3 separate regions of the Homo sapiens genome follow, and all the other regions are linked to region 1. Evidence: fine-mapped expression QTL. A gene starts in region 1. Each other region holds a variant in brackets. All regions are shown on one strand. Distances are between the middles of the regions.

Region 1 (10,717 bases):
ACTTTTATGTGTCCCCTTGGCTAGGCCACAGTACCCAGATATTTAGTCAATCACAGTCCAAATGTCACTATGAAGGGTTTTGTTTTGAGACAGAGTCTCACTCTGTAGCCCAGGCTGGAGTGCAGTGGCGCAATCTCGGCTCACTGCAACCTCCGCCCCCTGGGTCATGCAATTCCCATGCCTCAGCCTCCCAAGTAGCTGGGATCACAAGTGCGTGCCACCACACCTGGCTAATTTTTGTGTTTTTAGTAGAGACGGGGTTTCACCATGTTGGCCAGGCTGGTCTCAAACTCCTGACCTCAAGTGATCTGCCTACCTCGGCCTCCCAAAGTGCTGGGATTACAGGCGTGAGCCACTGCACCTGGCCTAAGGGTGTTTTTTAAAGACATGATTAACATTTACATGGGAAGATTTTGAGTAAAGCATGTTTCTATTCACAATATGGGTGGGCCTCGTCCAATCAGTCAAAGCCTTAAAAAGGCGGAGGTTCCCGAGGAGGAGGGACTGCAATGCCAGCACTTCCCTGGCTATCCAGCCTGCCGGCCTGCCCTGCAGATCTCAGACTTGCCCCACCACCATCGGATGAGCCAGGTCCTTCAATCTTGCTCTCTAATCCCTCTCACACGTGCAGACACATGCACACACATGCACACACATGTACCCAGTTGGTTGTGTTTCCCTGGAGAACCCTGACCAGCACGAGGGCCTACAGCAGTTCTCCTGTGCCTGCCCAGGGCTGTGCACTGTGGGCTGGGGGTGGGTCTCTCATTGCTTTGGAACACCAGCCTTTGCATTAGAGGAAGGACTGGAACCCAGGGAGGCACTTTCACACCTGACTTCCATGATGACTTCCTGGAGCCCAAGTCTTGATGCCACAACAGGATGAGACTTGGGGATCGCCGTAGCCTTTTTTATGTGGAAGGGACATGACCTTAGTGGAAAGAGCAGATTCTATTTTCCAAACATGCCGCATGGATGAACCCTGCTCGGCACGCCCATCCCGCCCAGTGAGATTCCCCTGCGCTCACAGTTGAGACCCCGTTCCCTCCCCTTCTACGTGGCAGGCCAGGGACTGAGGGGGAAGCAACACAACATGACCTCCCCGCCTCGTGAGAAAGGTGACCCGGTTCCACCTGGCTGTTTTCTCAGGTCACAGTCCGTGGTGACCCTGACTCAACACACAGGGAGTCCACTGCATCAAGGCTGCCACGCTGCAGCGAGTACATGGACGGTCACACAGTGACAGGGGAAGGTCCCCGAGGGGCCCCTGCTGCGCCAGCCCCCAGTGTGTGAATCCTCCTGGCGCAAGCCTCAGGCAGCAAGTCAGTGGCCTCCATGGTTCCAGCCCTTGGCCTTCAAGCTCCGCATCTGGTGCTGAGTGGCACCAAGGTGAGCTGTGCCCAGCGAGACTGCAGACTTTTAAGCAAAATGAATGCTATTGCTACGAATACAGGAACAGAAAACCAAACACCACGTTCTCACTTATAAGTGGGAGCTGAATGATGAGAACACATGGACTCAGGGAGGGGAACAACACACACTGGGGCCTGTAGAGGGCGGCGGAGGGAGAGCATCAGGATAAAGAGCTAATGCCTGCTGGGCTTAATACCTAGGTGATGGGTTGACAGGTGCAACAAACCACCATGGCACACGTTTACCTATGTAACAAAACTGCACCTCCCGCACATGTACCCTGCAACTTAAAATATAAATAAATGCTATTGTTTTAAGCCACTAAGCTGTGCATGGCTTATTGAACCACCATGATATTGGAACAAGGGTCGTGATACGAATATTCAGAACTGTGAACTGCATCTTGCAGGAATGGGAAGCTATGAAAGGCCCACTATTGTAAGAATTTTAAAAAATAATTGCTCTGAGCTGGGAGTGGTGGTTCATGCCTGTAATCCCAGCACTTTGGGAGGCCAAGGCAGGAAGATCACTTGAGGCCAGGAGTTCGAGACCAGCCTGGCTAACATGCTGAGACCCCATCTCTACTAAAACTACAAAAAAAAATAAATAAATAAGTTGGGTGTGCTGGAGGGCGCCTGTAATCCCAGCTACTCGAGAGACTGAGACATGAGAATTGCTTGAACCCTGGAGGCGGAGGTTGCCGTGAGCTGACATGGTGCCACTGGATTCCAGCCTGGATGACAGAGCCAGACTCCATCTCAAAATATAATAATAATAATAAAAATCATTGTTCTGACTACTGCAGGAGGACCTGTTCAAAGAGAGGATGTGCAGAGCCTCTCCAGAGACTACTGCAGGAGTCCAAGCATGAGATGGAGGTGGCCAGGACAAAGATGGTACACTTCATAGAACCACACCCATATGTATGTCCCCACGACTCTACACCTTTCTAATAAAACAGTAACAATACCAGCTAACATCGGCACCGTGGTTTTTCATTTACAAAACATTCTATGTGCATCTTCCTATTTAATGATTTCACTTTAGGACTCGGGAAGTCTCCATGCTACAAAATTAATCCATATGAAACTCAGTCAAGCTCTAAAGCAGGGGTCTCCAATCTTTTGGCTTCCGTGGGCCACACTGGAAGAATTGTCTTGGGTCACACATAAAATAGACTAACACTAATGATAGATGATGAGCTTAAAAAAAAAAAAAACTCATAATGTTTTAAGAAAGTTTACAAATCTGTGTTGGGCCTCATTCAAAGCTGTCCTGGGCCACATGTGGCTCGTGGCCCATGGGTTGGAGGACCTTGCTCTAAAGTGTGAAGCTCCATCAATTTAACTCAGCCATAAAATCGGCTGACATTACACTTTTACTACACCCTGCTCCAGCGCCCCTCACTGACCTCTCCGTGCTCTAGTCCTCACCACAGGGCCTTTGCACACAATGTTCCCGCAAACTGTCCCCTCCTGGGCTCCTGAGCCACCCCTCTCATCCCTTAGTTCTCGGCCTAACATTCCTCTGTTACGTGCATTCAAGGGAATGTATTCCTCTCCTTCAACGCACTCATCTCCGTGTGTTATTACCTAAGAATTAACGTAATTATATGCTGAATGCCTTTCACTGTATTAACGTCTCAGCTGCAGATAGCAGAGAACTAGGCTGACTTTACTTACAACTGTATTCCCAGCACCTAGGACTGAGCCTGACCCACAGCAGGGTGGGGGGTGGGGGAGCAGGGGAACTCCACAAATATTCAGAAGAGAAGGAAATTCATGCTAATCCTTCAAACAAAATGCACATAAGACATGCAACGGTTTCTATTTCCAAGACAACATTTATTTCAAAATCATTTCTAGCAGGAACCTGGCTGTTGGCAAAAAGTAAACTAGATGCTTTAATTTATTCTTAAAGTTTTTGCTCATTGTTAAATACTTTGCAAACATGTGCTGGATACCAACACTATACTTTTAGCTTAATTACAATGATTTCAAGAGGAAAAAAAAAACAAACTCAAGACCACAATTGACACGATGAGCCCTTGACCTCCGGAGAAGGGCAGATATCGCCCTGAGTCACCAAGGGAACACATGCTGAATGACAGGCTGATTTGTGATCAGGAAACCCGCTGTTCTCCGGGCCCTTCTCAAGCCCACTCAGACACCAGTCCTCCTTGATCACAGCCTTGGATGCAAGGAGGCTTAGAGGCACTGCAGCTGCCTAAGTGATTCCAGATTTGCAGGAGAGCTATTATTACTGAGCAATCTGTGCTCTTGGTATTTAGAAAACAACTGAAACATGTGCCCAGATGGAGGCGTCCACAGCACGGAGAGTCTCTCTGTATCAGCACAGGGACAAAGACGGGACCTGCTGGGCTCCCACTGCCAAGGTTGCTACCTGTACCGGAACATATGGAAACCCCATTGAAGCGGGTTTGTATTGGAGTTTACAAATGATGCGATAAGCTCCAAACCACCTTTCCGGATTCTTCCATCCACCCAGAGCAAGGTGCTCTGAGGTTCAAGTTAGGCCCAGACATCAGTCAACACAGAGTCCTGCTCCCTGGGAATTTCTTTAGTCTCAGAGCCACAACATTTAAGCTTTCTCCCCTCCTCCCAAGCCCAATGCTGGCTTAAATACAGTCACGAATGGTTCAGATGCAGACAGGTTCTGAGAAATGATAGTTAGATAACTTCATCACTGTGCAAACATCACACAGGGCACCTACACACCTAGGCGGTGCAGCCTGCTACACACCTGTGCTCCACTGCACAGACTCCTGCTCCAGACTGCACACCTGTGCAGCGTGCACAATACCGCAGGCAATTGTAACACAATGGTGTTTGTGTATCTACACATTTCTAAGCATGAAAAAGACACAGGGAAAACAGTTTTATAATCTTACAGGACCACCGTCAACTTGGCGGTCTGTAATTGATCCGAACGTGGCTGTGCTACACATCACTATAATGTAAGCAACATCTTTTAACTGATTTTATTATGTGCTGTCCAATGCTATGGCCAGCAATGCCTGTGCAACTGACATGGAAAGTTCAAAGGCTTTACCTCATTACAATTTTTACTTAGTTATGCCCTGATGGGAGCATTGCAATGCCAGTTACCATAAATCTGCACACACGAGGTTGTTGCTGGAGCAAATCTGAAGGCAATGGAACGCTCCCTTCCGTGATGTCAGGAATGGGGAGGATTATTCTAATAATAGCACACTATTAGCTCAGGATAAAAGGCTGAAGGGTTCCATTGACATCCATTAAGGGGTCCTAATTGGAGCCTGAGTAACTGCTCCTTAGTGGGAAATGGAGGCGGGAACCGCGGGGAATCGGGCGAACTTCTCACTCAGGGCCTGAGGGGATGGCTGGAACTTTAAAATCTGACGGCGGCGCCTTTCGTGGGCTGAGTAGAATAAAGCTCGCTGCACTGATTTGTTCCTTTTCTTTTCCTTAGAATAGACACTGGAGTGGGTGGAGGGGGAAACGTGGTTTTGTAGGACTCTAAAGAGGTGGAGGGACTTTGGTTCACCCTCTTTTCATGCTCCAGAATGAGCCCCGCCTGAGAGGAGGGACCCCTGCGGAATCCCGCCCAGACCGCCCGGGGGTCTCCCCAGCACATGGGGCGGGGGCTGCAAGGGGCGCCCGGCAGGACTCGGGAGCCGCGGCGCGGTGGGGCGGGTGGGTCGCGGTGCTCGGGGCTCGCGGGGGTCAGCAGCCAGGACACCCCCGCACCCCGGGCGCAGCGGCGGAGGACCAAGGGCCGCGCTCCCCTCCCCAGGGCCCCGAGTCCAGGAGAGACCCCCGTTCGCTCCGGACAGCCGATCCCCGCGACCGCCGAGAGCCAAGCGGAGCAACCCCGGGAGGAGCCCCCGCCCTGGCCCCGCGCGCTTGGCTTCGGCTTCTGCTCCTGCTTCCGTGCCGGCTGGGGCGGCGGGACCCTCGGCGGGGGCGGTGACTGCGGGCGCGGCGCGGGCGGCTCATTGTCTTCCGGCCGGGGTTGCCGCGTCCCGGGGGAGGGCCTGTGGAGACCCCGCGAGGAGGCCCCCACGCCCCCCACGCGGCCTCCCGGAGGCGGAGCGGAGACCACCCACCGCCGCCCACCCCGCCGCGGGCAGCGCTGCCCCCTCCTCTCCCGGTCCCCCCTCCCCTCCCCTCCGCTCCGCTCCCCTCCCTCCCCTGCCGGCCTCCCCTCCCCGCCTCTCCCCTGCCGGCCTCCCCTTTTCTCCCCTCCCGCCTACTGCCGCTCTCGCCGACCACCTCCCACCCGCCGCCCCCTCCGACCCGCGCCTCGGGCTGCTTCCCGCTCCGCCCGCCAGGCCCCGCCGCTGCCTCCCCGGGGTCCGCCCTACCTCGCCGCGGCTCCTCTTCAGCCGCCGGGCCCGGGACGCGCAGCCAGGCGGGTGGGCTCCGGCGCATGCGCGCGGCCGCTTCCCGGCACCTGTGGGAGCCGCGGCCCGGCCTCTCCGAGCACCTGCGAGCGGGAGCTGCTCCTCCGACCCGCAGCGGGGCGTGGGCGGCAGAGGGGGCGGTGGACAGGCCTCTCCGCCTCTCCAGGCCGCGCGGAGCCAGCGCTCCGGCTCCAGGCTGCGAGGGGCGCGCGCGGGGCGCGGGGAGGGGGGCGGGCGCGTGCACACGGGGCGTTTTCGGGCGCGCGCCCCCTGGCTGGGTCTGCGGAGGGGCTGTGGGTTCCCCGGGGCTTCCCTGCCCCGCGCCTGCCCGCCGGGCGCTTCTCCCCCTCCAGGACCGCGGCCCACGTCGCCACTCGAGCCCGAGCCCGAGCCCGCGCCCACGCGCGGGGGCCGCTTCCTGCGAGGAGGCGGGGACAGGTGTCCGCGGGCGCAAACAGCGGAGTTTCGTGCGCCTATTTTTTGGTAAAAGTAGAGGCGATGCGTTGTTGACATATTTAGTGGTTAAAAACTTATTGCCAAATTCTCAACAGATTCCAGAATTTTTTAAAGTTCACAACACGAGAGTGGACGAAATGTCGGAGCTTTTGCTCATATCCAGAAATGTGGCCTCTGCCTCCCACTCGGGCCCTGCGGTGCAGACGGGTTCAGGGCGGCGAGGACTGAGCCAGGAGCGCCGAGAGTTCCAGCTGCTCCCAGGCTGGGTTCTAATTAACGCTGGACCCCTGCTGGTAAATGCTATTTTTAATGGCTTTGTGCAAATTAATGACGATGAGATTTCCATAAGTACCGAGAGCCAGAGCCTTTACTTTCTCTTTTTGTGTTCTTTTTGCTTGTGACAGTCTTTGCCAGTTCCATGCTGTATACACATAATGAGCCGTTACAACTCCAGCACCAAAGCTAACGCCCCGGGAACATCTTTAAAACCTTTTTCACTCTGTTGCCAAGAAGAGTAGTACCTGCTGTCAGTACTTGAATTACAGGAGGCTGAAACTCAGCGAGCTACTGGGATTTTTTGAAAATTGAAAACTTCCGTTAACTATAGCAGAAACAGACCCTTTTGGTGGAAGCTAAAATAATTCCCATGCTGCTCCGTTTTTATTTTGTTCAGTTTACTCCAAAAATGTTCCAAACTCTACTGTGATCTTCTTAGTGCATCTCTACTTCCTTTCGGCTGCAGAATAATACTTCTTTTTCTCTTTTGTTTTTTTTTAGAGATGGAGTCTCACTCTGTCGCCCAGGCTGGAATGCAGTGGTGCAATCTCGGCTCACTGCGATCTCTGCGTCCTGGGTTCAAGCAATTCTCCTGCCTCAGCCTCCCAAGTAGCTGTGACTACAGGCATGCACCACCACACCCAGCTAAATTTTGTATTTTTAGTAGAGACAGGGTTTCACTGTACATTGGCCAGGCTGGTCTCGATCTCCTGACCTCAAGTGATCCACCTGTCTTGGCCTCCCAAAGTGCTGGGATTACAGGCATGAGCCACCGCGCCTGGCCTAACTACCCCCATTCTTTTCCAGAGAAACGTGAACAGGCCAAACAAAGCCTCACCTGGCTATCCCGCCACCCTGGGGTTGGGCCTCCAAAGGCCCGGGAGGTCACCTAAGACACGGTGTTCTGAACATGCAAGCCCGACAGCATCTTCTCTACCATTCTGCCAGAGTCCAGAGACCTGGGAATAGGTCATACCCCCCACTGCATTTTACAAGCTTGGCATACATTAGGTTCTCAATAAATACTGAATTAATGAAAAAATTGCTGAAGTAACTGAAAACATCCATCCAAACCCCACACCATCTGGTAGATAAGTAGTCTGTGGGGAGTCCCATATTTTTCTTACCTTAGATATTTATTTGGAAATGGACTGTAGGCCCAATATGGTCAATGAAACTTGCAGAGGAACATTTCATGCCTTTAATTAGTTCTTCATAACTGCAGGGACCTCTAGAGTTCCTGAAATTGAACTGGGTTGTAATACTGTCAAGAAAAAGGAGGACCTATCTTAAATCTATTTCAAGGGTAATACTATTTTACTATGTAAATTTTCCCCTGGTCAGGGACAGCCTGATCATGCATGGTAGACTCGAAGCATGCAAATATTTCAACATGCAAAACCGCCCTAAAAATATAACCGAAGCTTATGGAGTTGTCCAGGGTACAGTGGTTTACTGGCCCCTGAATGCGGGACTCCATCAAACTGGGTTCCAGGCTGGGAGGTCTCTGAACCCAATTTCTAGACAGCCTGCTTTGGAGTTCAACTGATGGGACCTTAGACACCAGCCTTACCCTCTGCAAGTCTTGTGATTTGGAGCCAGATACTTGGCCTCTCTGTGCTCCAGGGAGACACCACTGCACCTACCTGAGAGGACTGAAGGAGAGGATCTGTGCAACTCACTCAGGATACTGGATCTTAAGCCAATGGGTGGACTTACATTCGTCACCTCTGATTCTGTCTCCTCCTGCGCGGTGACTTAGCAAACACTTCTTCCTCTCCAGCTCTGCTTCTTACTCTCCAGCTCTGCTGCCCTGTTCCAGTGCTGACGCCAGACAACAGATAATTTCCCAAATGCTTGTATTAGCCCTTAGGAGTTCATGTGTTCCTCCCCCAGCCAATAAAGCTGTTAAATCCCAATAACTGTCAGGAATGGAGCCAATTGCTATAAAGTACTTCCAGCTTCTTGGCATGAAGAAATAATTAGAATATATGTGTTGGCTTTGAAACAACACTCACTGGTTCATTAAAAAATTCTGTGCATATTGTACAAAAGTAGTCTTGGCCTTGGCACTCCCTTAGGTGAACCTTACCCGGCCCTGGCACTCCCTTAGGTGAACCTTACCCGGCCCTGGCACTCCCTTAGGTGAACCTTACCTACTTCAGTGCTTCCTCAGCTCTGATGAACTGTGTGCAATTGCGTTTTTGTCGCAAGCTGCTGCTTAAATACTGTGAAGCTCTTTCCTTATGTCAGTCTCTCCACCTATGTTACCAGCCAGCGCCTGAGACCCTCATATTAAGGAAACAGTGTGTTCCTAAGTCCTCTTTGATATTGTCCACTATTGACTATCGATAGCAAACATGCATTGGCCATGTGCTAAGCATGTCATTCCCCAAATTTTATTTTTTTGAGACAGTTTCGCTCTTGTTGCCCAGTGTGAAGTGGAATGGTGTGATCTCAGCGTACTACAACCTCCACCTTCCGGGTTCACGTGATTCTCCTGCCTCAGACTCCCGAGTAGTTGGGATTACAGGTGTGTGCCACCACGCCCGGCTAATTTTTTTTATTTTTAATAGAGATGGGGTTTCACCACGTTGGTCAGTCTGGTCTCAAACTCCTGACCTGAGGTGATCCACCCACCTCGGCCTCCCAAAGCGCTGGGATTACAGGCGTGAGCCACCGTGCCTGGACCCCAAATTTTAAATTACAGACAGTCCCAGGTTTAAGATGATACCCTAATTGTCCTGATTCGAATAGGGAAACGGAGGCCATGCTTTTTAGTTTTGTACCCCTGGGCCCAGCAATGTGAGGGCATGAAGCCAAGCTCGGTAATTGTTGACTAAATGAAGGAGTGAGGCCTGTTGAGCCCAAATGCCCATTGCTCATCATCCCTGACAGGCTCTCCCAGGGGCTGCAGGGGCCTGGGCACGTGGTTCCCTCAAGCAGATTGCAGGTTACCCACAGGCAACACGCTCTGCCAGTGAATTAACGCTGCTGTCTCCACATGGCCAGTACGTTTATTAGGGGGAATCCTAGTAACCATTTTTCAGAAAAATAAAGGAAATAAGATGGCAACCATTACTTTAAAATAGTTTCAAGGCATATATTAATAATGTTAGAGCAAGTTAGCTGCAATTTAAAATATTTTGAGGGTCGGGGGCAGTGACTCACATCTGTGGTCCCAGCACTTTGGGAGGCTGAGGCGGGCAGATTGCCTGAGCCTAGGAGTTGGAGACCAGCCTGGGCAACATGGAGAAACCCTGTCTCCACAAAAATACAAAACATTAGCCGGGCGTGCTGGCGTGCACCTGTAGTCCCAGCTACTCAGGAGGCCGAAGTGAGAGGATTGCTTGAGCCTGGGAGGTTGAGGCTGCTCTGAGCCATGATTGCGCCACTGCACTCCAGCTGGAGCAACACAGTGAGACCCTGTCTCAAATATATATATTTATGTATTTTAAATATAAATTTTATGTTATATTTATATTTATATATTTATATATATTTATATAGATTTATAGATTTATAGATTTATAGATTTTATTATTTATAAAATCTATAAATATATAAATATATATAAATATATAAATATATAAATATATATTATATATAAAATATAAAATATATATTTATATATAAAATATAAAATATATATTTATATATAAAATATAAAAATATATATTACATAATATAAAAATATATTTTATATATATTTTATTATATATAATATATAATATATTTATAAATATACATTTTCCATATAAAATTTATAAATATACATTTTCCATATAAAATTTATAAATATACATTTTCCATATAAAATTTATAAATATACATTTTCCATATAAAATTTATAAATACAGATTTTATATATAAATTTATAAATATAGATTTTATATAAATTTATAAATATGTATTTTATATATAAATTTATAAATATATATTTTATATATAAATTTATAAATATATATTTTATATATAAATTTATAAATATATATTTTATATATAAATTTATGTTTTAAATCTAAAACATATAAAATATATGTTTTAAATCTGAAACATGTAAAATAGATGTTTTAAATCTGAAACATGTAAAATAGATGTTTTAAATCTGAAACATGTAAAATAGATGTTTTAAATCTGAAACATGTAAAATAGATGTTTTAAATC
Region 2 (9,641 bases), 140 kb before region 1:
TCAGCGCTAATTCTCCACTTCTGCTGTGTAAGGAATGTTTAACAGATTTTCTTATGTTTATGATTGTGGTTTCTCTGTGTCTGAAACTTTTAAAAATGGTTTTCTCTGAAGTTACAATGTGACTGCATCCTTGCATAAGTTTTTCTCCATCTATTTTTTCACGTTAATAATTTTTAAAATAACCATCTGCACCACATTATTAAATGAAAAACCCTGTAGACAAAATGGTGCACCGAATCACAGGCTTGACAGGGACACAAGTATGTAAATCAAATGTATTAAATTGCACAAAAAACCCTCAAACCTCAAGTAATATTAGTTTTCCCAATATCTGTGTTTAAAGATTTATGAATCACTTTAGTCAGGGAACCTAAAATAATTTTAAATATTTATAGACGGTTCTATCCCACTAAGATGATATCAGAGCCCATGGAAAGCAGAACTCGGGGGTCTCGCCACTGGCCTTGGGAGTGCACACACACCTTGTATGGCACGGTCAGAACAACAATACCAACAACAACAAAAAGAATAAACCAGCACCATAACCAAGTCACACTGACTTGCTCTGGGCTTTGAGTTGCTGACTCCCTAAGGAACTGATTTTTGCAGTGCTGATGTCTAAAATTTGGAAGAAACATACCTTTCTGTGCAGGGTAAATAATTTGAGAAAGTTGTTTTTGCAGCATGAATGGACTACATACACAGGCTATCATCAGTCACCTGGCAGGATTCTTCCCTTTAAATGTCCATTATGCTTTTCATTTGTTGAGCAAGACTTCTAAAGACCACTTCCCTTGCAGCTTCCTTGCAAGTAACCTTCTCTTCTTTTATAAATGTTTTCATTTCTGAATCTTCCTTTTAAACACACTAGTGCAAGAAATTCACTACCAAAAATAAATCTAAGTATTTTTCTATAATAAATTTACCACAACCTTGAGCATGTTATCGAACCTATCAAATCAAAGCCTTAGCTCTAGTTATCACTAATATATATATAATGTATTATCAATTATATATCTATATAAATTTCTTTCAAGAAGAGAGGAAGGGAAAACAGTATTGATTTAAGAGACAGTAAGCAATTAGATTGGCAATTAAAATATATATATTATATATTTATATATAATATAATATATATATATATATACAGGAAATCAAATTGCAAATTAATTACCAATACTGAGGATGGTCAGAATAGTAAGACGGTTCCTTTCATCACACAAATTTCTAGGAGTAACCTGCACCTATCTAGGGTGTGTTCAACAGCCACCTAGTTCCAAACCCCCATGCCCCATCCTCCTGCAAATCCCCTTGCCCGGGTCCACTCCCGAGTGCACTGCAGACCTCTGCTCCACAGGCACGCACTTGCTCTTCACGGCAGGTCCCCACCTGACACTTAGGCTCATCAACAAGCTCACACCCCAGTGTCCCCGCTGAGGTGGCCAAGTGGAGATCACCAAGGCTTAGCCCTGCCTCCTCTCCATTTATCCCGCCTGGCCTCACTTTCCTGCTCAACTTAGACAGCTGGTTGACCAACTAACGACAGTTAAACAAGACCCAAAGTTCCTATTCCATCTTCCCTTCTTGCAACTTCCATCCAGCAAGACCCCAATCATGAGTCTGTCCCCTGACTCACACTAGGTCACTGGCCACATCTGGAAAAATCAATCCCAGCACCCCTATGTGGGCCACTACGAGCTATCTCCACGTTGATGCACTCAACAATGATTTCCATTCTTAATAAGGAGCTGCTGTCTTGCCTCCTTCAGTGGCAATCACAGCCCACTCCTGCCACTCCCCCCACTGTGGGCTACCTTCCTCATCTTCAACACCCTCCAACCCTTCACTGGAAAGAGTGTGAAACCAACGGGCTGCACTGATGGATCTGCCGCTTGCTCTGCCCTGGTTTTTGGCATCCCCCCCGCCCCCTCATTGTCCTTCACAGGGAGCTGCCCTGGGGGCCAAGCAGCCCCTTGCATGGCTGTGCTGACCTGGTCTCATCTCCCTCCAGGCCAGCACTGCCCCTCCTGTGTCCCCATGTGCTCCCCTTCCTTCACCTGTGAGTCCTCTTCCACTGACCCCTCTGCCTATAAATAGGATTGAGCGTCTCCATCCAGAAGGAAAGACAAAGCCACCCTGACTCCCCTCGCTCTCCCTCACTGCCAGCTGAGCACCTCAGAGGGCAGCGGGCTCCTGCTCGTATCCCCCCTTGTGTCCCATCTCCTCAGCCCACCACGTAGAGACCCTGCCTTGCCAGGGAGTGGGGTTGGAAAGCCCAGCACCCAGCCCGTGCTGCCTCCAGCTGTCCCTGCTCAGCCGGCCATGCAGCGCTGCCTCCAGCCGCCCCTCCTCACCCGGCCACGCAGCGCTTCACTCCAAAGTCCCTCCCTGCCAGAGGCCACCAAGTCACTTGCTTTCCCTCTGAACTCTCTGAGGGTTTCTGCTTAATAATCCTGGAGCTGGTCTCCTCTTCTCCTCTGACAATCTGAATTTTCCAGAATGCCCCAATTGTTTGTGATGTTCCTGTCTCTAAAGGCTGTCCTTTGGCAGCTTGACCCACTTGCGTCATGTCCACAGCCAAGCATTCCCAATACCTCATGAATCCACACACGATATCTCATGAATCCACATGCTCCAGATGACTTTCCCATTGCTGCCAGGTTCACATGTCCTGTCGTGAGCCGGTTATGCCTTACTGACCATTCCACGGATATAACTAAATCTTTGTGAAATTGAATGTATTCTCAAAACCCTAAAACTTGGCCCTCCCCGTACAGTGCTGATCTCAAGAAATATCACACCCACTCGGTCCTCCAGTACACTTCCCTCTCACCCACACCCAGCTACTTGCCAGCCCCTGCTGGTTTTAACTGCTGGATGTGTATCCTAAATCTCCTTCTCTCGGTGGATATGAAACTGCCCTGCTGGAGTTACCATCTCTCAGCAGCCTACTGAAGCGTCGTCCTCCAGCCCTGCCACCTCCAGCCTTCCTTGTCAACCAGCAGCCCGTGTCACTGCACTAACAGCCCTCAGGTGCTCTGTACCCTCTCAGTCCATGGCCAGCCTCTGGGTCCTGCAGGGGAATGCCCCACTTGCCCACCAGCCTTGGGTTTTTTATTGTTTTTATTTTTAAGTGCACAGTTCAGCTTCTCTGTCCCTCCCTGCTGCTGGATCTTCCTAGAACCATCTTTTCCCACTCACTGGCCTGCATAATTCTTAGTCCCCTTGGCACACGCAGCTCACGAATCATCTCTTTATTGAAACTGTCTGTTTACTTTTCTCTCTTATCCAGTAGACAATAAGAAACTAGTTTGGGAGTAAAAACAATGCATTATTGATCTTTTTCCCCCATCCCCTCATCCTGAGACAGTCAAATAGTAGGCAGTTATTAAATTGAAGATTTGCTGCTTAAAAAACAGATTTTTATATTTAGTAATAAAACATATTTCATTACTACATTGTTAAACGAAACTGAAAGAAGTATCTTGTCTCCAAAGCATGCCTTTCCTTTCCTGATGAACTCGTATGAGCAGCACTTCTAGGTGTATTTCACCAGGGCACACTTTCTCATAAACTCACTTAATAATCGTTTAAGTAAAATTTTTATAATCCAACCTTCCATTGCATCCCACTACACTGTAATCTTTTCGTGAAGAAGAAAAGATAAGCACTGAAGTCCAAGTATTAAAAAGTCCACAGGACCCAAAAGCCACTCCGCCCATCCGCAGCTACACAGGCACCACACGTTTCCTCACCAGCATCACAGATCTGGCCACAGCTACTCCCTGAAAGGCCTCTCTGATAGGAACCAGAATGAGATTTATTGTTTTCCTGTTAGAACCGGGTTTCTCACCTTGCAAACAAGTCGAACTTCACATTCTTCCGTGACATCCCAGTGCAAGTACTCAGCAAAATGAGGGCCTAGGGAGGAAAAAAGGGAAGAAAACATATAAAAAAGGAAAAAGTAAACAAATAAATATATAGCTATTATATATATATACCCACACATATATGCATGGTGTGTATATATAATACATAAGAATGTATTATATATATTTATGTAATGCATTTTTGGCAGAACACAATAGCTGTGGAGGATGAAACTGAGATAGTTTTCAGGCCTGGGATGTCGACACGTGTTAACACTGATTCTCCACTGGAATCTGTGCTTCCTGGTAGGAGCGTACGTCTGATGGCTCCTTCTTACTGACATCTCATATCTATTGCTCTTCAGAAAGGAGGCTATTGAAATAATTATATTTTGTTTCCCAAAGTATATGTCTAACTGAACATTCGACAACATGGTAAATAATACCTTTAAATAAGAGAATAGATATGAGATAAAGAAACAACAGTTTGACCTAGCAATTTTGTAAAACACATTTTCTTTAGATAGCATTCAAAATCAAAGACAGGTTTATATATGTTTTTAAAAAATGTTAATCATTTTTATTTAAAATACATGTAGGAATAAGTCATACACTAATACCCTTTTGCCATTCAATGCAAAAATACAAAGCAGATTTGGAAAGTATGTGTTCACTTCTTTCATATACATAAATACATCCTACAAAGTTGGCCCAAAAATGTTCATAATGTAGAAGTAAGTAAAATATTTGTGACTATTAGAAATAAAAACAATGAAAAATAATAAAAATGAATGTTTTGATTTTATGTTTCATAATTCACATTCTAATTTTTCTCAAGAAGTTCAGAAATCCCATATATAAAAATGTTTTTTGAGGCTGGGCGCAGTGGATCACCCCTGTAATCCCAGCACTTTGGGAGGCCAAGGCGGGCGGATCACGAGGTCAGGAGAT[C/G]GAGACCATCCTGGTTAACACGGTGAAACCCCGTCCGTCTCTACTAAAAATACAGAAAAAATTAACCGGGCATAGTGGCGGGCGCCTGTAGTCCCAGCTATTCGGGAGGCTGAGGCAGGAGAACGGCGTGAACCCGGGAGGCGGAGCTTGCAGTGAGCCAAGATGGCATCACCGCACTCCAGCCTGGGCAACAGAGCAAGACTCCATCTCAAAAAAGAAAAAAAATTCTTTGAATAAACCCTTGGGGTATGTTTGAGAATCTAAAGTGTATCCATTTTCCTTTGTATCTAGTTAACATGTATTTGTAAAAGCAATCTATTTAAAACATATTGTTTGTAGTTAGAAAGTTTAACAGCTCCCACAATCTTAAGTAGAATGAGCAATTTCCTGGTGATAGGAATAGCCTCTACTGCCTTCTCTACATTTCAAAGCCAAATGAAGCCACCACCTCCTCTACCCCCATTCTTTATTCTTTTCATTAAAATTGCTGGACTCCGTCTGGACATTAAAGCTAGAGGCACGCTTTCCTCTTCACTCCCCTGCTATAAAGCAGGTTCCTTTCCTATGCAGTTGGTAAGCCTAACCTCTTAATCATTTAAAACAGCCTTTAGGGTTGCTTGGGATCATGCAAGATCTGCTTCTGACAAATACTCCAATCATCTTTGCTTTATGCTAGGGGCAGGGGAGCCGGTCAGAGTGAGGAAACTCACCTTGTTTCCTGAGAAATTCTTTCCTTTGAAACTCAGCCTCTTCCAGCACAGTCTTGAATGCTAAATTCAATATTTAAAAAAATATATATGAAACATGTTTGCTTCTCTCCAGTCAAAAGAATTTCATTTGAATTATCTTGTATGGACGTGGAAATATTCGATATAGCATACCATCTCCAATAAGAACTAGAGAAGACTGACTTTTGGCTTTCCCATCATGAATCTGCACAGTGTAGGTCCCCTCATTTTCAATACTAAATCGATCCATCACCATCTCAATAATGCCAGTAGCTTTGTCACATTTAATTCTGTGTATCTGCAAGCAAAACAAGGGAAATGGAGAATTATACAAGGAAATCTCTCCTAGTTTTCCCTTGCAACATTTAACAATTGCATCAGCCATGAGATCTCAAGGGATTATGATAGGAAGAAACCAAAATGAAATTTTATCAAGGAAACCTCTGGGTGAACAAGGATCAAACAGTGGGTATGAGCTGTCACTCAGTGACAAAGCCTGGCTGTGTGAGGAGATCTGAGAGTCCAAACCAGGGACCTTCTAGGCAGAGACTCCACACCTACCCAAGAATGAGTTACTAACGTGAAGCAGATAAAATTCACAGGAGAAAATAAAATGATACGCAATTGATATGAATGATAACGATCACCAGCTGATGACAAAAATCCCACATGGATAGCAACAACAGGCAATCTCCACAGCCACTGTCATCTTCAGCTCCCGGGACACAGCACCCACAAGCCCCAGCCTGCTGTGGTCCATCAGGGTGCAGGGGTTTCAGGTGAGGAAAGGATAAATGGACCTCCAACAGGTGTTGACTTTTTTGATCGCTTTTATTTTTTAAATGTTTCATTTTATTCTACAGTACATGCACAGATACATATGAATGTGTTCTATTTAGGTAATCCTACAAGTCAAAGAACAAGTGTTTCTCTAACACACAGATGAATTGAGCAAATTTGATCTTTTGTTTCCCTCTGATTTTGTGATGTTTACTTATTAACTTTTTAACTTCACTAAAACCATTTTCCCCATCTTTATTAATGCTTATTTCTCTTTTTTATGTTTTGTTTGTTTGTTTTTTGTTTTTTTTTTGCTGGTTGCCTTATTTGGGGGCTTGATATTTTTACCTTTTTGTGCTTCTTGATAATTATTAAAGTTATAAATTAATATTAATACTTAAATTTCACTTTTTCACTTAAATAACTCTAATTCTAATGAAACCTTTCAAAACATCAATCAGCCTGTGTAATTTTTAGAACTGTTTCAAACCAATTTCATATGGTATTGGTCTTTGCCAATATATGTTCTTAATATATTAGACCATCTCTTCCTTGTAATTCTGAAAACGAGTTTTCCTGTGTAGCAGTATATAAATTTGTCACATCCCTGTGGTCCCAGCTACAGGGAAGGCTGAGGCAGGAGGATCGCTTGGGCAACAGAGAAAGACCCTGTCTCAAAAAAATAAAAAGAAAAAAGAAATTTTGTTAGGCTGGGTGCAGTGGCTCACACCTGTAATCCCAGCACTTTGGGAGGCCAAGGTGGGCAGATCACCTGAGGTGGGGAGTTCGAGACCAGCTTGGCCAACATGGTGAAACTCCAACTCTACTAAAAATACAAGAATTAGCCAGGTGTGGTGGCGCACGCCTGTAATCCCAGCTACTCAGAAGGCTGAGGCATGAGCTTGAACTCAGGAGGCAGAGGATGCAGTGAACCGAGATCACAGTCACTGCACTCCAGCCTGGGCAACAGAGTGAGACTCTGTCTCAAAAAAAGGGGGAAAGAAGAAATTTTGTCATATATAATGCATACAACCAAACCACAAACATTTGCCCACACAGTTCCCCCTCCCTGCCTGCAGTGCAGCTGTCTTGTTGCTAAGATAGGAGAAAGACTGGAAGGCTGTTGGTTGGTCTGAGAACACTACTTTGCATCACTTCATGATTTCTAGGTTACACTGTATCACAGGAACAGTCCACAGAAGCCTGGACTACCTGCCTCTCTGCTGCTTTGGTGATGAATGCAGGGATACATTTCATGCCTTGGAGTTCCCTGAGGGCCATGCCCCAAAGTTCTGAGCTTGCAGGCCTCTCTGCAACAGTGCAGCTTCTGCCCATCCTTGTCGTGGCCACCTCACCCGAATGCAGCCCTTGTGACTGGCTCCAAGGGAGACTTCCCTGATGCCCCCGGGTGAGGCTTGGTGTTTTATGGGGTTTCCACAGCTCTGCCTCCCTTCCCCCAATAGCACCCTGCCCTTGGGAGCACCCTCCCCACCCTACCTATCCACCTGCCGTCTGTCTGTCTCGCCAGACAATGAGCCCCTGAGAGCAGGCATGGCCTTACTCATCCCTGCAGCCTCACGCTGTGCCCAGCATCATGCCTGGCAGTGAGAAATACCAAACACATGTCCAACAAGGTTCTGATGAGAAAGTCAGCTGGAGGGGGCTTAGCTCACCCTGCCATCTGTGGCATTGAGGTGGCTGTGGTCTCTGACACTACTAAGTGACACTGAGCAATTTTGGAAGATAATTATGCTTCTAGGTGAGAGCCCGCGGACATGGTCAGGACCGGAACTTCCTTCCCAGTGCAGACCTGAGAAGCCTTCTTGATCAACTGAGACCTTCCCCTCCAGATCAGTCATCGGCTGAAACTATGAACCTGTCCCAGTCGGTCCTTCCTCCATCCCTGGCTGCAACTGTCACCTCTCTTCCTTCAACAGCTAACCCCCTGCACCACCCTCTTTGACCTCCCTGCCTTGGTGCAGCCACACCCTGGGCACAGAAGCCCCACCCCAGGCAGCATCTGGGGTAGAGACCTCCCAAGGCCTTCACCTGCTCCCAGCTCACCTTCCCCACACCTCTGCTCACTCAGCCTTTGGGATGTGCTAACAGATACTGAAAGGTGTTATGGCTGCTAGTGGATTGTGTTGTACTCCACCTGGATGATACAGTGTCTGACATTGAGCAGGGTCTTGACGGTAGAAGGACCACATCCCAGTGTGTGACTCATCCTAAATGCAGCAGTAATGCAAGGCACGATGGCGTCGAGGGAATCCAATGTCCAGCGCGGGACTCGCCCCAGCCATGCCACCGTAGAATCACGGGAGTGTGGATGCCCGGCCTCGGCTTCCTCGTGCCCAGCGTTACCAATACGGTAGTCTCAGCTGCTGTCAATATTTTCTGCAGATCTGCATCTACCTGTCGGATCGATCTCAGCTGGAATTGGGGCAAAGGCTTTCCAGCCTGAATAATGATCTTACCCAGGACCCAAGGAGGCTCTTGGGGCCACATGAGCAAAACAAAAAACTAATAACCTGTGGTGCTCGGCAAATGAGGCAGGCGTAGCGGGAGAAGACTCCGTCAGCCCTTGGAACCACACTCCTCTCACAGCCCTTGCCTTAGCAGCAATACTGCAGAGAATTTCTATCTGCAGGTGACAATGTAAGTTTAGCCAGAAAATCAGCAACCTTCTTCTGATAAATCACGTGCATTTGTTTTCACATGTTCTTCTTTCTCTCTGAGTTTACATTTCTGTTTTGATATTGCAAATGCCAGTGCCACCGGAGAGGCTTTAGAAGACGAATATTAGCAAACTGGCCACTTGGTTCAGTTTCTCTCTCTGTGTTCATTTTCTTCAGCATTGTTTCTAAGTTCTTCTGCCTGACATTCAAAGTCTGTATCTTCTGACCCCACTCCTATTCCCCAACACTATTTCCTAAGATCACTCAGGCAAACAGCCCCCTCCGTTGAGCCCACCCCTCCACTTCCCTGTGTCGCTATTCCCTGATCATTCCCCACTCTCTGTGCACTAGAGCGGCTTGGAATGTCTCATTCTCTCCCTCCCATCCCTGACCCCCACCCCCCGACCCATGATTTCTACCTCCTTAACACCCATTTCAATAACCCTCTACCCTTGAAATCCTTCCTGACTACTTCAGCCTCTTCAACTCTCTGCCTTCTCTGAATTCTGAGAGTGTTTACTGTACTGTTTTAATATAACCTGGGTTCTATCTTTCTTCTCTGTCCTCCTCTAATTGAAGGTGTATTTCTTTGACTCCGTGACAGTCTCTGTAAGGGCAACTTCACATCTGACTGT
Region 3 (9,078 bases), 32 kb before region 1:
AATGCCATCTCTACCAAAAATACAAAAATTACCCGGGCACGATGGTGTGCGCCTGTAATCTGAACTACTCGGGAGGCTGAGGCAGAGAATAGCTTGAACCCAGGAGGCGGAGGTTGTAGTGAGCCAAGACTGCACCAGTGCACTCCAGCCTGGGTGACAGAGTGAGACCCTGTCTAAAAAAAAATTGGGGGTTGGGGGGAGACGAATAGCTTTAATTTCATTTGTCTGAAGAGGTGAAAAGTCCCCCTTTCTCACTGAGCAAGAATATTAGACTTCTGCAAATTGTTCTCACTTCTTTCTTTTGCCTCAATTTATAAGATTCATTGCCTCAGTCTAAAAGGCCCACGTGTTTCCTGGTGTTATATCAGGTTTAAAATATTCAAAATACTCAGCTAAGAAAACCATTCTCATTTATTATAAAAATCCTAAAGCTCAGCAGGGGAAAATGGTGACGCCATAGAAGAGTTCAAACAGAATTCTATTTCCACAGAAGAAAATGCTATGAGAAAAACTAAGATAACAACTTCAGGTTGGAGAGCTTCTGTCTCCACTCTGCTTACGAATATACTTTTAGCAACATTCCTTTTTTTGGGATGCAGCTCTGGGAGCTGCATCCTCTAGGAGTCCTGGTGCCCTGATACCCTGTGGGGGGTGGGGGCTGAGTGCATCTGACCCCCTGGGGTGGGGGGCTGAGTGCATCTGACCCCCTGGGGTTGGGGCTGAGTGCAGCTGATACCCTGAGGTGGGGCTGAGTGCATCTGACACCCTGGGGTGGGGGCTGAGTGCATCTGACCCCCTGGGGTTGGGGCTGAGTGCATGAAAAATAAAGATTTTAAGAGGAAAAATAATTTTTTCAAGACCCCTGACAAATGAACAATAACACTTGGTTCTGGCTCAAGTACAAATTGTGTCTAGAAACGTTTGGGCCTGCTGCAGTGGCTCACACCTTAATCCCAGTACTTTGGGAGGCTGAGGCAGGAAGACAGCTTAGGGCCAGGAGTCTGACACAAGCCTGGGCAACACAGTGAGACCCCATCGCTACCAGAACTAAAAACATTAGTTGACCATGGTGGCATGCACCTGTGGTCCCAGCTACTCAGGAGGCTGAGGCGGGAGGATCACTTGAGCCCAGGAGTTGGAGGCTGCAGTGAGCTGAGAGTGCACCACTGCCCTCCAGCCTGGGCGACAGAGGGAGAAACAGAGGGAGACCCCATCACAAAAAAAAGAAGCACACGAAAAAGAAAAAAGAAAAATGTTTGTGTCTACAGGTTTTCAACTCAAACTTTTCCTTGGTAGGAGGCCAGGTGAGGGTGGAGGAGGGTGTCTTCGGATCAGAGGAAGAAAGAAGCCCAGGTGGCCCGATGGCTGGGTGTCGTCACGGCCATGGCCTTATCTGCTCTGAGGGCAGGGTGGTGGCGACATGCAGGAGCACCAGGTCTCACCACAGCGTTCACTCGGCCCACGCCTCAAGCACACGGGACGGGAAGGAGCGTCTTCCTCCCTCATCCTGGCCACGCCTTTCATCGGCTCCAGACCGTTTTCTTCCTCAGCTGTCTCAGTGAAGACCCCAGGAGCCTGTGAGGCCCGTGTCCTTTTCCATTGCGGGTGCGGGGCTCGAGGCCACCCCTCCTGTGTCGAGCTGGGTTCGAGGCCCACACTTGGGCCTTGGGGTCGGCACTGGAGACGCTGGAGGCCACGGGGTCCTGAAGACCCCAGTGGTTAAATACGAGGCCCTGCCTGGTATTTAACATTCTAATCCGACCTCAGCCCAGTCTGAGGGCAGAGAGTGATCTCTAAGCTCCAACGGCTCAGAAACATGCAAAGGCACCTACCCCTGTGCTCCCCCAGGACATGGAGTGGCCACGAGAGGACAGGTGCATCCCCGGGGAACGTGGCTCCAGGCCTGTTTCCATTGCAAGGAAATTTCTGAGGCTCCTGGTCCTGGCCTCTCTGCAGCTCCTACCCCAGCCTCTTCTCCCCAGGGGAGGAATGTGGGGAGCAGCCCTTCCCTCACATCTGGGCTCTCCCATGGGACCTGCCCCCCAGGAGCAGGGCTCTGTGCTCACTCACAGGGAGTTCTGGGAGCTGCATCCTCCAGGAGTCCTGGTGTCCTGATACCCTGTAGGGGGTGGGGGGCTGAGTGCATCTGACCCCCTGGGATTGGGGCTGAGTGCATCTGACACCCTTGGGTGGGGGCTGAGTGCATCTGATACCCTGGGGTGGGGGCTGAGTGCATCTGACCCCCTGGGGTTGGGGCTGAGTGCATCTGACACCCTGGGGTGGGGGGGTGAGTGCATCTGACACCCTGGGGTGGGGGCTGAGTGCAACTGATACCCTGGGATAGGCCTGAGTGCATCTGACACCCTGGGGTGGGGGCTGAGTGCATCTGACATCCTGGGGTAGGGGCTGAGTGCATATGACCCCCTGGGGTGCGGCTGAGTGCAAGTGACACCCTGGGGTGGGGCTGAGTGTATCTGACACCCTGGGGTGGGGGCTGAGTGCATATGACCCCCTGGGGTGGTAGGATGTGTGCACTGACTCCGGTGGCCTTCACAAGCCCACGTGGCAACAAACCCAGCACCACTCTCTGGCACAGCCCCTGCGGGTGAAGCAGTGGCTGTGAGTCCCACCTGCCTGGCTGCTGAGCCGTTTCTCAGTTCGTTCTTACCTGGGGGGTGGGCGGGAGGACATGTTCTACATTAGTTCCCCCAAGCCCCACTGCAACTGGGAAATTTCATGGAGGAGGTGCTGCTGGTGGAAGGGGACAGGACACCGGGGAAGACGTGGGATGGCCCTAATGCTCTTCCCTGCCCACCCTGGTACCTCCCGACCCACTCCAGGGGCAGGGGACTGTGCCTGACGGTCCTACTGACCACCTCTTTCATTTTCTGTGCTTTGTGATGTTTTGGCATCTTACAGCTTGCTGGCCTGGCCAGGGACAGGCTGTCCTCCTGAGTCAGCTCATTCTTAGAGATGGGAAGGGCTTGGCTGGGAGCTCATGGCCAGACCAACTGGCCGCAGTCCACACCCCCAAGCCCTCCTCAGCTACTCTCACACACAAGCCCTGCCCTGTATCACCCCTGGGCCCGGTACCAGGCAACTGGAGACCACCGTGATAGCACAAAGCCCACTGGAAGGACACAAACCAGTGCAGCGAAGCAGCTCCCCCAACCTGCCTTCCCTAGGAACCAAAGTCTAGGCGCTGGCCTCGGCTTCCACCTGCTCCTGTGCAGCCCATCCTGGTGTTCCCGAGGTCCTAGGTGGTGTGCCGTGATCCCCCGCTGGGACCCGTGAGCAGACCGAGGAATCCAGGGCACCTGGGAGTGGGAACAGACACCCCAACTTAGAACCTCTGTGCCAGGGGAGCTTCAGGAGCCGGTGAGGGCAGTTCCTCACTTAACGGGCAGGACGTGTCAACCCTGGGTCCCGCAGGCAGAGCTACGCTCCCTGATTCACAGGAGAAAAAGCCGCATCTGACGCTCGCTGTGGAGAAAGAGAAAAGCACTCGGGGCACATCAGGAGGACTGGCACTTTCTGCGTGATTTATTTCATCTCGGCATGAACTGACAAACATACGAGGCTCTGCACTATTTATGCCCAGGATTTTAAAAGTCAAGCATTAATAAATACATTAACTACACAGATCACAACAGCTGCCCTGAACTTGGCCTTCAACAGGTGTAGTTTACCTTTAATAAATGGTAACATTTGAGAATCGCTTAGAGCTTGAACAGGCTTTGGAGGAGCTTTGATCTCACATGAGAACCCGTCTCCTGTTTCATATGCGTTCAATCCAAATCCATCCACTTGGCGTGTCTGAAGCTCCTGCCAGCACAGTGTCTGTGCCGGGTGCCCGAAGGCTGCACAGTCCAGGCTTCCTCCCGGATGTGGAAAACGTGGAAATGATGTGGCCACTGAAAGAAATTCAAGACAACTGAAACAACTGCAGATTTCCATTTTCAGCTCGTGTTTTCTTATGAACAATAACATTGCAGAAGGGGAAATATCAGAAAGTTGATTGATTTTTAACCCAAAAACAGAACTTTTTGTAAGCTAGGAAAGCATCTAAAATTAACAAGAATACAAAAATGCACTTTTGTTTACATTTGCTCTATTTAGATCTTACAAGAGATTATGTCTTGAATCTATCCTGACTTCAGCAAAAGACAAAAGAACGTTGAAAACATCCTATTTCCAAATCGTTTACAGGAAGTTACCTAAGAGACTGACAGATTCAACGGCTGCTACCAGAATTACTGAAGTGACACCAGAAATTAGCAGAAACAGAGCAGATGATTAATTTCTTACTTATTTGTAGCCAAACTTATACAGTCACGAGTTTTAGTTAAGTAGCCAAAGAATTTCCACAACATTCATTTTCTTACAG[C/G]AGAAGTCGGTGCCTCCACAGACTCAGAAACCAAATCCCGAAGTTCCAAATCCAGCTCTACAAAGCTGCAGGAAGCAGTGCGGAGTGGAGGGATGTTCCCAAGAGGAAGAATAAAACCGGAAGGAAAAGGAGGAAGGCTCAAGCTCATTCCTCTGCATCTCAAATGAACCTTGATTGGCAATACAGAAGGGATTGCTGTCAACTAAGCAAAAGGTCAGGCTTCCATGCATAACATTTTCCCCAAAAGACACCACTGCCTTTTCAGACATTTGGAAAGGCCCCTGCGTATGGGTTAATTTCACGAGTCAGACATTTGGAAATGCCCCGGCATACGGGTTAATTTCATGAGGAGTGTGGACAGCTGTCATCAAGGCAATAGCCTCATCTAACTATTTTAATGGGTGGATGACCAGGAATATTTTTGCACCAACCTTTTTCCTACACAGTGTTGGACGCAGACTTAGAACACCACTTTGAATTGGAAAAGGTCCTACCTGGGGCATCAGCCGTTGCCAGGCAGTCTCAGCAATGCCTCTGCCCTCCCTGCAGCAGTCCCAAAATGAAAGCCACACCTTGGAGGGTGTGGCTTTTCTCTGTTTCATGGGTGCAAACCCTAGCGGCTCCACACCCCAGGGACTGGCCCCCAAAAAGCAAAAACACTGCTCATGGCGTGGCAGGTCCTCTAGTATGTATTTTTATGTGATATCACTATTCAGAACTGTGGTGTATACTATTCTATAAATTTCCACAATAGGTTGGCCGGACATCCTTTAATGGTGGGTATTAATTCCTCTTATTCTTTACGTTTCTTAGTGCATTTTGTTGTGAGGTGACAGGGAGCACCTGGGGCTTTGCTGCCGGGCCCCACAGGAAGCTGTGCTACATCTAGTGTGAGCATTCCTTCACTAAATGAAACGCTGGAAAGCCATGGGAACCGCACAGGACTGTGCAACCACCCCCATCCAACATCCACCACTTCTCATATCCTTTTCCGGGGACAGTGTTACTCTGGAAGCCTAATTTCAATATTTCATTTTCAAACAATAAACATTACAGGAATGATTTCACAAGTAAAATCACAGTGATAACAGCATATGAGTTTGATATTTAAGGACTGAAAATATTAGCCTGGTCCTGGTCCCATTTCATATAAAAATTTCTACCATTAATAAAATTCTAGAGGAAAAGGCAGGACAGTGTGAATGGTACATTGCTTAAAATGAACATTATTTGTTTCCTTTTGCTGTAAATACTGTTTCTACAACCATTTCTCCAGTATACTCCTATAAAAGGCCAATCAAGTCAGGCGATATGAAGTCTGTTTTTCTTTCCCAAGATGATTAACCAAGTTGCCAAGCTATCCCCTCAGTTCATGAGTAACCATGGGCAAGCAGACACGTCCCCAGAACATACCGTAACCCAGATCATAAATTCCAGCCCCCGAGTCATGCATAAGGTTCAAGCTGATCACTTCTAAACACACTTAACTGAGACCTCTCATAACCACAGACTCTTTAAAAAGCATAACCTATTTTTCAATTACCCACTGATTTCTACAGAGATGGCAGTTCCCATTACTGGATTAACAAACAAATAATATTAAAGTAGGCAGGATTTCAACTAGTTACGTTCCAGTAACTTTTCCTCTTACAGTAAGAAAATGGGTTGGATTCGGAGTTCAAATGTTCGCCTCTATTTGTGAGCATGGATCTCATCCTCAAAGTCATAATAGTAAGTCCTCTGTATACACACTTGAAAAGTAAAATGTTAAATGAGAAACGACCCAACTGATTTGTTTTTAATCCTCATACCCTGTCAATGCAGTGAGCCTCGTGTTAATTCTATTAGGGTATTTTGGAACTCAATTCAATACAATTAAATACATGCAGTTTACTTGCAAATCTATGGTGATAAGCACGTCACTTCCTTGTTATAAATCTATGCCCACTGTCACTCGGCCACACTTAGAATACTGATTGTAAAAATTAATCTCCCTCATCAGAACTACACGATCCACATTGAAAACATCATATACAGTGGGTTTAAAATGTGCCTACACTTTTTTTTATAGAACTGTCAAAGCAAAATGATTTTCCCCGCTTTTTAGGAATATTTTATCTCGTTCCAGATTATGAAAGCGGCTGGGCATACAGAGTGGACTATCAAAGATTGCTTTTTAGATAGACAAGCACCCTGGTAAGTTTTTCCTACTTATGATGTGCTGTTTGGTCACATTTAGCCACTGAAGACTTAAAATTTAAATAATGGTAAATCATCGCTACATCAGTTAACATCCTTTCAACTGAAAATATGAAAGCCCCCTCGGTCCAACAGTGAGACGGAGCTGCTCTAGGCATGTGAGTTTGAGTAGCAATGGTGTGGGGAAGGAAATACTTCCAATGCATATTGAACAAGAAACCTTACTGGTAATCAAAGATTTTACCTTTAATGCTTATTAAATTACTCTTTTTGGAGTTGAGCCAACCAAAGCGAGCACATGGTACGAAATTTTCAACTAAATCAGAAAGAGCTTTACTTATCAGTTATAATTTTAAATCTCAAGCCAAAAATAAAAGGCGTGACCCTCTCTGCGTGCTTCCCCCGATAGTTCGCGGCGACCTACTTGAGGGTCCCAGGCTCCTGCGCACAGCCTCGGTGCTCTGCGGGGTTCGGGACACCCCGGGGCCGGCTGCAGGCTGCCTCAGGAACCCCCACTGTACCCTGAGGCTGACCCTTTGGATCCCACAGCCTTCTCTGTGTCCTGTCTGTCAAGGGACCCATCCGCACACCTCCTGGGTCTCAAGGCATCCACCCCCAGAAGCAAAGACAAGCAAAAGGAAAGCAAAGCGAAAGCGGCCCTGAGAGCGTCCTCGGGGCTCCTTCGAAGTGTCCAAACCACCAGCGTGGCCAGCGGCCCCGACTCCCCACCACGTCCTCCTCCGCGGGCCCAAAGGGACCTGGGCCCCGCAAACCCCTGCCGAGGGAGACGCCCGCCGACCCCGCCGGCCTACGGGGCGCCCTGCTCCCCTCGGGGCGGCTTCTCAGGCAGGCTGAGAGCGAACGGGATGAGCACACCCCGGACGTCCAAGGGGGCGCCCAGCGCCTCGAAGCCGCCGCCCTGGCCTGCGTCGCCGCCGGCCTCGCCTTCCCGGGCAGGCTGGAAGCGCCAGGTGCCCGCGCGGCTCACGCAGTAGATGGCGCCGTCCAGGGCGGCGCAGCGGAAGGGCTGCAGGCCCGTGGGGCCGCCGGGGAGGCGCAGGGGCGCGACGCACGGGCTCCACTGCTTGGCCAGGCAGTGGTATCGGGACACGCTGACCCCGCTCGGCCCCGCCGCCTGCGCCTCGCCGCGGCTGCCGCTCAGATCGAAGCGGTAGATGAAGCCGTCGAGAGCCACCATGTCGGCCGAGCGCTCGCGGCTGCTGCTGCACGGGCACTCCTGCCACTCGTCGCGCCGCGGGTCATACTTGAGCAGGCGATAGAAGAGGGAGCCCCCGGACACGTAGATCTCGCCGTGGCAGGTGGTGGCCTCATGCGCCACGGCGAAGGCGCCCCGGGGCAGCGGCGCCACGGGGGCCCAGCGGTCGGCGCGCGGGTCGTAGCGCTCCACGCTGAGCAGGCACTCGCCGCCCACGGCGTAGAGGTGACCGTCCAGGGCCAGCAGCCGCAGCTGCGAGCGCGCCTGGCGCAGGGGCCTCACGGCGCTCCAGCTGTCCGTGGCCGGGTTGTAGCAGAAGACCTGGTCGGACGGGCGCGCGCGGCCGTCGGGGCCCGCGGGCGCCACGCCGCCCGCCACGAAGAGGTAGTTGTAGAGGACGCACAGGCCGCAGCCCCGCGCCGGCGCGCCCTCGGGCAGCCGCGTCAGCTCGCGCCACTCTCCGGCCGCCGCGTGGAAGCAGTAGACGGCCGCGTCCCCGCGCGCGTCCGCGTCCCCCGAGGGGCTCTGAGGCCGGCTGCCCGCGCGCTCCCCCGCCGGCCCGAGCGCCGCGGCCAAGAGGTGGGCGCGGCCGGCGCGCAGGCGGCGGCGCAGCAGCAGGTCCCGCTCTGCGCCCGACAGGCGGCCGAACACGGCGGGCTCGCGCAGCACCTCCAGATAGTGGTCGCTCATGAAGCAGTAGGCGGCGTCGCGCAGCTCGTTCAGCCGCTGCCGCTTGGCCGCGCTCAGGACCTCGTAGCAGTTGGCCAGGCTCAGCTGCGGCCCCACGGCGTCGGTGGCGCGCTGCGCGGCGCCGGGCAGCTGCAGGCGGCGCGCGCCGGCCACCACCTCGGCCACGTTGTCGGGCCGCACGCCCGCCATGCGCCCGCTGTAGGCGTCGGCGAGGAGCAGCCGCAGCGCCGTCAGGCTCACTCCCTGCACCCGCAGCACGTCCCGCGACGCGCGCGCGCGGAAGTAGTCGCTGCGCGCCGCCAGCACCGCCTTGTGCGCGCGCAGCCGGCGCCCCGACACCTCCAGCACCAGGTCCGGCTCCCCGTACACCGCCCCGAACCCCGGGGGTACGGGCGCGGGCTCCCCGGGCTCCTCGGGGGACGCGGGGTCCTCAAGCCAAACGCGCGGTTCGGGGGACGGCGCCGCGGGCTCTTCCGGGCACGCGCGCTCCTCAGGGGACGCGAGCTCCTCCGGGGACGCGGCGCCCGCGCTGCCGGCCTCCCACTGCCGCTCCACCACCCGCGGGCCACCGCTGGAGGGCGGGGAG

Evidence for each region. PIP is the estimated chance that this variant, and not a neighbour inherited with it, causes the effect.
Region 2: its variant is fine-mapped to the expression of KBTBD11 in whole blood (TOPMed, PIP above 0.99).
Region 3: its variant is fine-mapped to the expression of KBTBD11 in whole blood (INTERVAL, PIP above 0.99).

Annotation. Positions count from the first base shown.
Region 1 is chr8:1,968,998-1,979,714 of GRCh38, reverse strand. KBTBD11 (kelch repeat and BTB domain containing 11) reads right to left here and starts at 6,038. Exons shown (of 2, transcript NM_014867.3): 1 at 5,780-6,038. KBTBD11-AS1 (KBTBD11 antisense RNA 1) reads left to right here and starts at 6,370. Exons shown (of 3, transcript NR_136275.1): 1 at 6,370-6,567; 2 at 7,052-7,175; 3 at 7,358-8,536. It overlaps KBTBD11-OT1 (KBTBD11 overlapping transcript 1), which reads right to left and starts at 8,318. Exons shown (of 3, transcript NR_126346.1): 1 at 8,197-8,318; 2 at 7,678-7,790; 3 at 3,271-3,816. RefSeq lists enhancers at 610-1,168, 1,169-1,728.
Region 2 is chr8:2,112,165-2,121,805 of GRCh38, reverse strand. MYOM2 (myomesin 2) reads right to left here. Exons shown (of 37, transcript NM_003970.4): 26 at 5,702-5,846; 27 at 5,531-5,590; 28 at 3,854-3,921. Among named protein-coding and RNA genes, the nearest start is that of MIR7160, 40 kb to the right of the region's middle. The variant C/G (reference allele first, on the strand shown) is at 4,821.
Region 3 is chr8:2,001,381-2,010,458 of GRCh38, reverse strand. It overlaps KBTBD11 (kelch repeat and BTB domain containing 11), which reads right to left. Exons shown (of 2, transcript NM_014867.3): 2 at 3,523-9,078. The coding sequence ends at 7,395. Among named protein-coding and RNA genes, the nearest start is that of KBTBD11, 32 kb to the right of the region's middle. The variant C/G (reference allele first, on the strand shown) is at 4,388.